Regions from separate parts of the Homo sapiens genome. Here region 2 is linked to region 1. Evidence: fine-mapped expression QTL. A gene starts in region 1. The other region holds a variant in brackets. All regions are shown on one strand. Distances are between the middles of the regions.

What was found.
Region 2: its variant is fine-mapped to the expression of PPM1B in fibroblasts (GTEx, PIP above 0.99).

The regions. Positions count from the first base shown.
Region 1 is chr2:44,165,622-44,171,005 of GRCh38, forward strand. It overlaps PPM1B (protein phosphatase, Mg2+/Mn2+ dependent 1B), which reads left to right and starts at 3,254. Exons shown (of 6, transcript NM_002706.6): 1 at 3,254-3,653. PPM1B-DT (PPM1B divergent transcript) reads right to left here and starts at 3,171. Exons shown (of 2, transcript XR_940034.3): 1 at 1,677-3,171. It also overlaps the pseudogene PDSS1P2. RefSeq lists silencers at 2,955-3,284, 3,605-3,814.
Region 2 is chr2:44,243,543-44,248,926 of GRCh38, forward strand. It overlaps a transcript of PPM1B not described here. Among named protein-coding and RNA genes, the nearest start is that of SLC3A1, 29 kb to the right of the region's middle. The variant G/A (reference allele first, on the strand shown) is at 2,477.

The DNA of each region.
Region 1 (5,384 bases):
TTCTCCCAACATGCAAAAGTGAGGAAATTAATTTACTTTACATCTGCCTCCATTATCCTGTGCCAGAGGGTCTCAAACATTGATGCGCATAAAAATCATCTGCAGGTCAGGTGCGGTGGCTCACGCCTGTAATCCCAGCACTTTGGGAGGCTGAGGCGGGAGGATCACTTGAGGTCAGGAGTTTGTGACCAGCCTGACCAACATGGTGAAACCCCGTCTCTACTAAAAATACAAAAATTAGCCAGGCGTGGTGGTGGGTGCCTGCAATCCCAGCTACTCGGGAGGCTGAGGCAGGAGAATCACTTGAACCTGGGAGGCGGAGGTTGCACTGAACCGAGATTGCACTACTGCACTCCAGCCTGGGCGTCAGAGTGAGACTCCGTCTCAAAAAAAAAAAAAAAAAAATCATCTGGGGAGCTATTTTAAAATTCACCTTTCTGAGCCTTGTCCCCAGAGTCCCTGATTTGTAGGCATGAGTGGACCTGGGAATCTCTATCCCAGAATCCCAGATGATTCGGATGCTGGTGGTCTATTCACCATGCTGTAAGAAACACCATTCTCACACAAACTTGATGAGTAGGTTTTAAAAATCTGAATTGCAGAGGCGGAGCCGCCACCCTGCCGCGACTTTCAGTCTCCGACCATGGCCTCACGCTGGTGGCGGTGTGCCCGGCTCCCCCGGCCTTGCAGGGCCTCCAGGGCCGCGCGCCGCTGCCGGCGCCCGCGCTCAGGCTCATAGGCGGAAGGGATTCGGCTTGTCTCAGATACCCTATTTTAGTCTTGTGAAGCGCTTAACATCTGCCTGTCCAAATGTATACAGTATATCACGGTTTTATCACACAACCCCGGACAGTAAAACACACAGTGGTGAGAAATATACAGATCACCGATCCTTTCAAATTCGGTTGCAGAGACTTGAAAGGTCTGTATGAGGACATTAGAAAGGAACTGCTCATATCAACAACAGAACTTCAGGAAATGTCTGAGTACTACTTTGATGGAAAAGGAAAAGCCTTTCGACCAATTATTGGGGTGCTAATGGCCCGAGCATGTAATATCCATCATAACAACTCCCGATCCGATGTCCAATTTTCACAAGCTGATTGCTGAGAAGGTTCTAGGCGGCGTCTGTTAAAAAGCATTGCTGTCTGTTAATTTGACATGTGCAAGCCAGCCACCGCGCCATAGCCTTAATTGCAGAAATGATCCACACTGCTAGTCTGGTTCACGATGACGTTATTGACGATACAAGTTCTCGAAGAGGAAAACACACAGTTAATAAGATCTGGGGTGAAAAGAAGATACGGTTTTTTGGTTTTTTAAAATCTCTCTTACCGAATCACATGCTTTTTGGACCGCGTTTGCTTTTTCAGATTTGTCTTATTAAAAAGTAAAATATGCTTGCTCAAAAAACAAAAAAACCCGAATTGCAATTAAGTCTTTGTTTCTGCCGTCCTTATGACGGCCTGGACAATTGTCCTATTACTAAATTTGCCCTTTTCTATAAAACATTGACAGCCCCTAACCTGAATAGCACTCTGTTGGGTCTAAGCTTAAATTGTCTGCCCAAACCATTTTACACCAAAGTAGGAAATAGGTTTAAGTTCTTTTAGGACATTCGGATTAAAAAAAAAATATATATATATATATATATCCTAAGGTAAGTATTAGAATACCTCTATTACACTTTTGTTTCTCGTTTGGAGAATTAACATGGCAGCATCGTCTAATTTGATAGCTGGAGGAGTCATGTCCACTTTCCCCATCGGCCTGTTAAACCCCTATCATTCATTCTTGACTCATCCTGTGTCTTTGTGAAGCCTTTCTTGGTAAACCTATGCACAAGGAAGACCCTTTATGTCGTCACCAGCCCTTGTGCATGTTTCAATTGTAGTACCTATCATCTTGTACTGCGATTGCCTAATTTATTTTTGTATCTCCAGTTCTACATACAGTACCTGGCAAACAGTAGGCGCTCAATAACTGCGAAATGAACAAGTCCATGTCAAGAGACTAGGCTGGGAGTTTTAATATCAATGCCGACTGAGAAACAAAATACGGAAATGTCAAGGGCTGGTATAAAAATAATCTCTAATAGCACAAAATCCTCCTGAAGGGAACACCTGTCCCACTTTCTCACGTTGCTTTCCAGGTTCTTCCGACACCCCAATTTCCCGCCCACTCTTCTCCCTCCGGGGTACAGGTCAGGCAGGTATCCCAGCTCGGCGGCTCTGATAGGTCGGCGATGATTTCATTGTTAGGGAACATCCGGGCCTTTCCCCTCCCCGCAACACCTCCCCAGAGCCCGGCCTTCCCAGTTTCCCACTCTCGCCTGCGCCCCACCCGCGGCTGAAGCAAAACAACCGCCTCTCCCCTGCCCACTTCTTGTCCTCGTCTGAGTCGTCCCTTCCCGTCTCCACGCCGAAGAGAGGCGTTTAGATCCTCCAATGAGGGCCTAGGAGGACTTTCTTAGCCAATCAGTAGCCAAGCCCCTGCAATTCCGGGTGGGACCAGGCGTCCACACCTATAGCTGGACTGCTCGTTGGTCCCTTATGGCGCTTCTTTTACGCGAGGCTTAGAGGTCAAATACAAGGGGGCACGGTCCTCACAGAACGGAAAGGATCCGTACAGACTCTCCGGGTTTGACCGTTTTCTAGGACGAACCAATCGCTTTCCAGATACTTCCCCGCCTTTTGCGCGTTCATTTGAAAAAAGCCGGTGTGACGGACTTGGAAATTGGCTCAGTGACTGACCCGCAAGAAAGCCAGTGACTGGGGGTTCGGATCACGAGTTGGACCAATAAGAAAAGACAATCGCTGGGGCCGGGGCTTTGCTAGGAGGAGCGCAGGTGGGCGTTATTTGATTGACGGAGGGCTCTACTTATGGCTGGTAGCGGGGGCTGGTCCCTGACGTTCGGGAGGTAGGACCTAGCGGAGGCGGGGCCGAATAAAGTAAATGGTAATAAAGGGTTGGGTCTCACTTAGTGGGCGGTGTTTGATGGACAGCTGACCTTGCCTATTGAAAGTAGCCACTGATGCCCAATGGGAAATTAGAAACCCAGAGGCGGGGCCGGGTGGGCGGGGTAAACGAAGTACGGAGGTGCCGAGGGAGCAGCACGGGGAGGGGGAGCGGTGATTGACAAGACTCCCAGCAAACCGGGGGCCGTGAGAGGGCGCGCGGCATCCCAGTGGGTGGCAGCTGGAGGCGGGGCACCCTGAGGGGCGGGGAAGGACTAGGGTGCGGGGAGGGGGTTGCAAAAGGAGCCGAGCGGCTTCTGCTCAATGGCGGAAAAGCCGCCGGTGCTCTGACGGCCTCGTTCCCCTAGCAGTTGCGGGGGAGTTTCCTGCCGGCGCGGCTGGAGTCTCTGATTCTCAGGGTTCGGTGGTTGGAAGATGCTCCAGAGAGACGAGGCTGCGGCGGAGGAGGTGGCGGCGGCCGAATCGGCAACGGCGCTAGGGTGGAGAGAAGGCGGCATCGGCGGCGGCGGCGGCGTGAGGGGCCGGGCGGTGTAAACAGCCCCGGAGGCGGCGGTCGAGACCCCGAGGGGGAAGCGGCGGCTGAGTCAGGGTCGCGCCTCCGTTGGAAACTTGGGCTGAGTACCGCGGCGGGCGCGAGCGAGGCGCCCTAGACATCTTCTCCCTCCCTTGCCTCAGGTAAGGCCGCCCGGCACCCCGCCGGAGGGGAAGCGGCTGACCGGCCGCGCCGCCGAGGCCCCGGGCCCTGGGCAGGTTTTCGCGGTGCTGCCGAGCCGCGGCCGGGGCCTCTGTCCTTCCGAATCCTCGCTGCTTTCCCTGCTGCCGCGGAGCCTAGGCAGGGGAACGCCGGGCCTGGCTCTCGGGTATAGGCCCCTTCCCCGGCCGCCGCCTCCGCTGGGCTGAGGTCTGGGAGAGGCGCAGGGAGAGAATGGGAGTTTGCTGGAACGCCTGGAAGCTGACTGATTCTCTCTTCCCTCCGCTTCAGTCTGCAAGCATCTCTTTCACACGAAAGCACTGGGGCTACCCCAAGCCTTGGCGCTTCTCTTCCTGGTGCATGCCCTGTTTGAAAACACTATCTTTTACCATTCGTTTCCTCATCAGCTTCTGCCCTACTCTGCGCTCCACTTCACTTCCTTGTTAAATCGTCTTTCTCTGCTGTCTATGCGTTCTACCCTCGCCTTCCCTCCTTAGTGGCTTTAAATTGTGTGTTTCTCTTTTCTTCGTACCCCGGCATCTCTTGCCTGTCTTCCCTAGCACCATCCTTTTCGGATGTCATTCCTAACAGTGAAGTTCTTAATTGAAACTGCCACTTATTGTCAGTACCCCAAATCTACCGGAGCCCCATTAAGAGTATAGACTGACTAGCCATATGTGGTAAATCAGTTTTTCATAGTTTAAGCCTAACAACCTTGAAAAAATTGTATTATTAAACGTAAAGTGTGAAAATAACACCGAAAATAATTTTTTAAATGAAGGACTCAGTGAGTGTTGGAAATAGTTATTTCTTCATTTTTTAAACTTGCATGACCTCTCATATCAGATTTAGCAGATCTGGGACGTTTGCCCATCTTATTCGGCAAAAAAAGTGCTTCTTAGGCGTTTGATAGCAGCCCAAATTCATCAATATTCAATTTCTTCTAAGAACAACTTGAAAACTTTTTTAAAAAGAGACGTTAATAACTGGGAAGTTGTTTTGATAGTCACAGTTAAAGAGCTTTTAAAATAGGCTCCACATGTTTAATGTATCAAAATAAAGTTGGCAGGCATGTTGTAAAAGGATTATTTAGGAATTTGAGTAGTCTTAGTGTTATGTAGCTATTTTAGGAAAAACATTCTTTTTCTGTTAACAAACGTTTACAACTACGGTGATGTGAGAATTACTGAGGCTTACTGTGGGATTAACACAGGAACTGTCTTTATTTGAGCTACTGCATGGATGAAGAAGTGGTAAATTGTTCAGAGTAGACAGTGTAAGTCACAGTATGTTCTAGGAGATGGAGAAACATGCCATGGACGCTGAATGTTAATAGATGTTATTTCATTTACTTTCTCTGTTGTGCAATAGCAAAGTTCCTATTGTTGGCCTACTTTTAAATGGGGCATTTCTAAGTAAATAGTGAGACAAGTTATTCTAATTATTATGATAGTCTTTTCCAAGTGTACAGGCCTTTTAAAAATATAGTTGAAGTAATGGTAATTTTTTAAGGAAATGTTTTTGTAGGTCTGCCAAATGGACAGTGTGTTGTTCTAATCGAAATTTTAAAATTAAGTATTTAGAACAGAATATTTTAGTCCACACATTTTCAGGGATAATCTTTATTTTGTGCTTCTTCTCTCAATGCCTTCTTTGTCTTTTTTTTTGTCTTAATGGTTGTTGTGTTTTCGCCTCTTCATTTGTTTTTGCTCTCA
Region 2 (5,384 bases), 78 kb after region 1:
CTGAGGTAAAAATCTAATATAACATTTTCCTATAGATTTTTCCATTATCCCTTTATACCAGCTGTTACATAAGCCAATCTTTTCTCATTATTTGAAGTTGTCCTTTATGACATATTCATGTATATGCTTGTATTTTTATAAGCATTCTATTTTATCGTTTTGTGTTGTGTGTCAGTACCATGTCATCTTAATTATCATAGTTTTACTATACATTTTATTATCTGATAGGGAAAATGCCCCTTATTATTCTACATTTACAAAAATTGAATGTGTTTATTTTTCCAGATGAATTTTTCAATAACTTGGCCAAGATATCCCTGCCAAATAAAAATCTCATTAATGTGTTGATTGAATTGTTGTATGTGTAGATTAATGTAGGGGTCATTGGTATCTTTAGCCAAGGTGAGTTCCACCAGGAAGATGCTACATCTTTCTATTTATACAAGTGTTTTTAATGTCCCCAGTACAGTTTTGTAATTTTCTCCATATGATCTACACCGTTCTTAAATTAATTCCTTGTTATTTTATATTTCTTATTGCTGTGATGAGTGAACCCCCCTCCTCAGTATATTTTAAATGTATACCTTCTTAGACAACTAGTTTTATTTACTTACCAACCCCAATCCTGCAAGAAAAAAAAAAACCATATATATATATATATTTCAATTTCTATCATATCCACCAGATGGCAGTCTTGGGCACGTCCATCTGTAAACCTGCTGAGAGCTCTGGTGACAAGAAAGGCAGTGGCTGGCAGACCTTCCAAGCACTCAGAAGCACGCGGACAAAAAGGTTTTTTTGTAAACCCGAACGAAAAATAAACCCAGCATTATATAATTATAGTATTTGTACTGCTGTTAACCTTTAATCTTATAACCCATTAGTGGAGACAGAGAAGGACTGTCACTGTGCCCTTCAAAATCATATTTTTTCCTGTCCATGTGATAAACACCTGTGGCTTCTTGGCAGCACTTTTGGTTTGATTCCAGGGACTCTTATGGTTAAAGGCAGGCTTTAATCTGGCGTTGTTTTCCTTCTCCTAAAAGCACCATTTAAATCGGAAGTTACTGGATTTCTAAACGGTTAAGACCGTCTTCCGACTGGTTTTTATCATTCCCAGATCTCTTCTGAAAGGAGGTGGTGTGCATAGTTAATATGAAAGGAACTGGCTTGTTCTACGCGAATACAAATCTGAATAACTCTTATATATTAGACCTTTTTTTTTTTTTACTTTAGTGACTTCCAGTATCTATATTTAGAAGTGTATAATTACTTGAGATATATATATATATATATACACACACACACACATATATAGTGTGTGTGTGTGTATCTATGTGTATATATATACATATACACATGTATTTTTAGGGCTTTTGGCTTTTTTAGGGCGGGACACGTGAATCTGGCAGTTGAGACAGAATTTTTCCTATAGCGGTGTAACAGTGTACAATACTAAACTAATGAAATGTCTTTCACTATCAACAATTTACGTATCCATGCTGATTGCTTTAACACTAGAAAAAATATGCCAAAATAAACTACATTTTCTAGGCGCTTTCACACCAAAAACACACACACACAGCTGCTTGCCCATTTGAGAACAGCCAATAAAGCAAACTCTTTGAATGATTTGTGGTTTTGTGTCCCCAGAAGTTTTAACAGTAGTTCTGAAGATTTGTCATTTGTGTGTGCTTCAAAGATAGAGTAATACATTTTATAGCTGGGCAGATCTCTAACTATATAGTTATAAAATCTCAAAGCTGAGAAAACCCTGAATGCCAGATGATCTTTCAGCAGCCTCTAGTGTGAGTGTCAGGAATGAGTTCATTTCCATCTTTGATCAGCTCTGCCTGTCGTGTTGCATCTCTGCTTCTTCTCCTCAGTTGTCTTATTAACCCTCGGGGCTATGAAAATAAGTATTTAAAAGCTCCTGGAACCCACAAAAAACACTAAGCCTTGAGAGAGATGTAGTTGATCTGAGTCACATATGCTAACAACTTTTTATTTCCCTGATTATTCTTCCTGTTCTGTACAATGACTAGAGAGAATAAAACTACATCAGGTACAAAAACCACCTGCCTTCTTAATTAATGACCTTTGTTATAGATTAACTTCTCCTTTGTTGTCCTGCTTCACTTAGATCAGATGACAGAAAACCCATGACTACACCCTCTGTAAAAGGTGTTCAGTGTACCTTTCCCAAGAGAAACACTGCCTGTAACCAAATTGCTGTAACTATGTGCCAACCTTGTATGAAAAATGTTGCAATCCTGCCAAAAACTCCTGTCTCTGCCTATGGAAATGAAACCTTGAGCTTCCTTCCTTCAGCACGCTGACTCCATTCCTTTGGAGCTGGTGCTCCTGGGTGGGCTGTCCTCAAACTCTGCGCTTGAATTATCTGTTTAAATTAGATTCTGACCTTTTTGATTATTTTAGGTTGATAGGGCCAAAATTTAACCCCACCTATTAGGAT[G/A]ACTTCCAGCATATTCTCTTTTCTGTCCCCCATTATTTCATTGATTACCATTATATATCCTAACGCCAACTGTATTCACCATCCAGGACCCTTTTCTCCCAATGTGCTCTCATTTTCTTGATCATTCTTAAAGTATGCAACCCAGAACTGAACATTTATGGGTAGCAGAACTGTCTCCTCCTTTATTCTCATTAATACTTTTCTGTTCTTCTATTTAACACCGAAATATTGAACTAGATTTTCTGGCAACTGCATGATACTGTTTGAGTCCTTCGAGCTTATTTTTGGTTGGTGTTTTGGTTAACCTATTTTGCAGGACCTTTATTTGTTCCTATTAAGTTTTCTTGGGTAAAATTTATTAACCTTTTGAGTTGGTTGTGGATTTATCTAAGATATGTTAGCTATCTTCTTCTTTCCAGTAACTCCAAAATTTCATACATAAACCTCCCATACTGAATGAAACAGGTCCAAGTACTGAGGCCCTGTGGGAGGCCTCAGAAACTTCTCTTCAGTAGGATGCAAATTGACCAATCTTTTACTCAACACCCATTAGGTAAGAATTTCAGCAATGTACTGATCCACTTATCTGCTCATATTTCTCCAGTTTATCTACAAGGATATCATAGGATTTTACATTCTTTGCAGAAGTCACTTGCATATAACCCAGCTTAAGCGGAGGCTTCACTTTGACCTATTCCTCTAGGTCCTTGCAAATTTTTGGTGTTGGTTTTTGCTTGTGGTATTGCTTGCATCATTTATGCATTTTAAAAATCCTGAGCTTGTTACAATTCTTCCTGTGTAACTGCTGATTTCTTGGTTTTGTTTTTATTGTTGTTTTATTATTTTTAGGTACCTCTGCCTTTTTATTCTGTATGTATGTTATACTTCAATTAAAATATTTTTAAAAATATCCCTGATGCATTGAAAAAAATCAAAACTACAAGTTGCTCTGCAACCTGAAGGCCAACTGTAGCAGTGTAGGTTGGTTAAGGTAGAACAGTGCCTCATCCACAGACACCAGTCGCATCACAGACACGTGGACTTAGATGTTGCAACCACTCTCCAGCAAGTGGCAGGAAAGTGTTCTAATTCTAATGAAACTAGTATAGTTATATTGCAACAAATACCTGACAGGTGGAAGTAACATGACTTGCAAAAAAAGTGCTTTTTTTGGAAGTGGTTTTTCCAATTTACCAAATCTGCCACATGGGCCAGCAGCAGCCCTGGAGCCTTGAATTCCTCTGGGAGAGGAGACGAGGTAGCTCTGCACCCTACATTCTCCCCTACCTGATATATATCCTCTTTCTTAAATAAAAAAAATAAAAAAAAAAAAAGAACAATGGAAAAAGGCGACACTGTAGGACTGTGGCACAGGAATTAAGCAGCATCTGAGCAATCTTAAAGGACCAGTTTTGGTTTCCTAGGCTGGAGTTCAGCCTTTTTGGAAGGGCCTGTGACACACTCAGTATGTCCTTCTACAACTCTTATTCTCTTGACTTCCTCAGTCACCAGGCTGAAAAAATAGCAAATGAGAAAAAGTAGAAAGGAAGGGAATGCCCCAGATGTAGATAGCATTGTAAATTTCTGCAGATATATGTGTTATTTATAATGTGTATATAGATAGTGTATATTTTTGTGCACATTTCGGTATATATGCTATACTTCAATAAAATTTTAAAGAACCTTGAATAATGCAATAAACCTTCATATATATTTATTTATATGAGGTTTCTGTTGGTGGAAAACATGGAAACAGTTGAATAGATGTGGATATGCTTCGGAGAATATGGATTAAAATATAAATTACATGTATGAAAAAGTCACTTTCAGGGAAGGAGGGCACACCTTCCAAGAGACAGGCAACAGTTTAGTCAGGGTAAGCTAACTTGCTATAACAGAACCAAATCTGTAATGTTCAAACATAACAGAAGTTTATTTCTTGTTCATCTATAGACCAGGCTAGGTGTTCCAGGTCAGAGGCTTCTTCTCTTCCATGTGGTGACTCAGGTTTGAGGCATTTTGCATCTGGTGGCTACTATCACCCAGGGCCTTATTGTTATATATATCCCACCAGCACAAGGGGAAAGAGAGCAAGGGAAGGGTACCCCTGCTTCTTCAAAGCCTCAACCTGAAGGTGGTGCACTTTGTTGCTATTCGCACTTCGTTGATGAGAACATGGCCACACTTAGCTGTAGGTGCAAGGTGTGGGGCTGAGAAACTATTCCTGGTTAGTAGCTGCATCGCAGCTACAACTCAGTTACTATGGAAGACAGGAAGCACAGTGTGAGAGCAACTCCTGTGTCTGCCACAGGCAGCCATTCTCCAGAGCAGGTAAACAGGGTCCACCACTTCGGAGAGATGAGGCATACATATTAAGGCACTGTGGACAGAGAAAACGAATGATTCAAACACAAACTTCAAAAATGAGATACTCCACGCACCCACCAGAATTACTAAGATTAAAAAGACTGATAATACCATATGTTGGCGAAGGTTTGTAACAACCAGAACTGTTGGCATTACTGGTGGAAGCATAATGACATAATCATGTTGGGAAAAGTTTTGGAGTTTCTTTTTTTCTTTTTTTTTAATTACACTTAAGTTCTAGGGTACATGTGCACAACGTGCAGTTTTGTTACATAGGTATACATGTGCCATGTTGGTTTGCTGCACCCATCAACTCATCATTTACATTAGGCATTTCTCCTAATGCTATCCCTCCCTCAGCCCCCCCACCCCCCGACATGCCCCAGTGTGTGATGTTCCCCTCCCTGTGTCCATGTGTTCTTGTTGTTCAGCTCCCACCTATGAGTGAGAACATGCTGTGTTTGGTTTTCTGTCCTTGTGATAGTTTGCTTAGAATGATAGTTTCCAGCTTCATCCATGTCTCTGCAAAGGACATGAACTC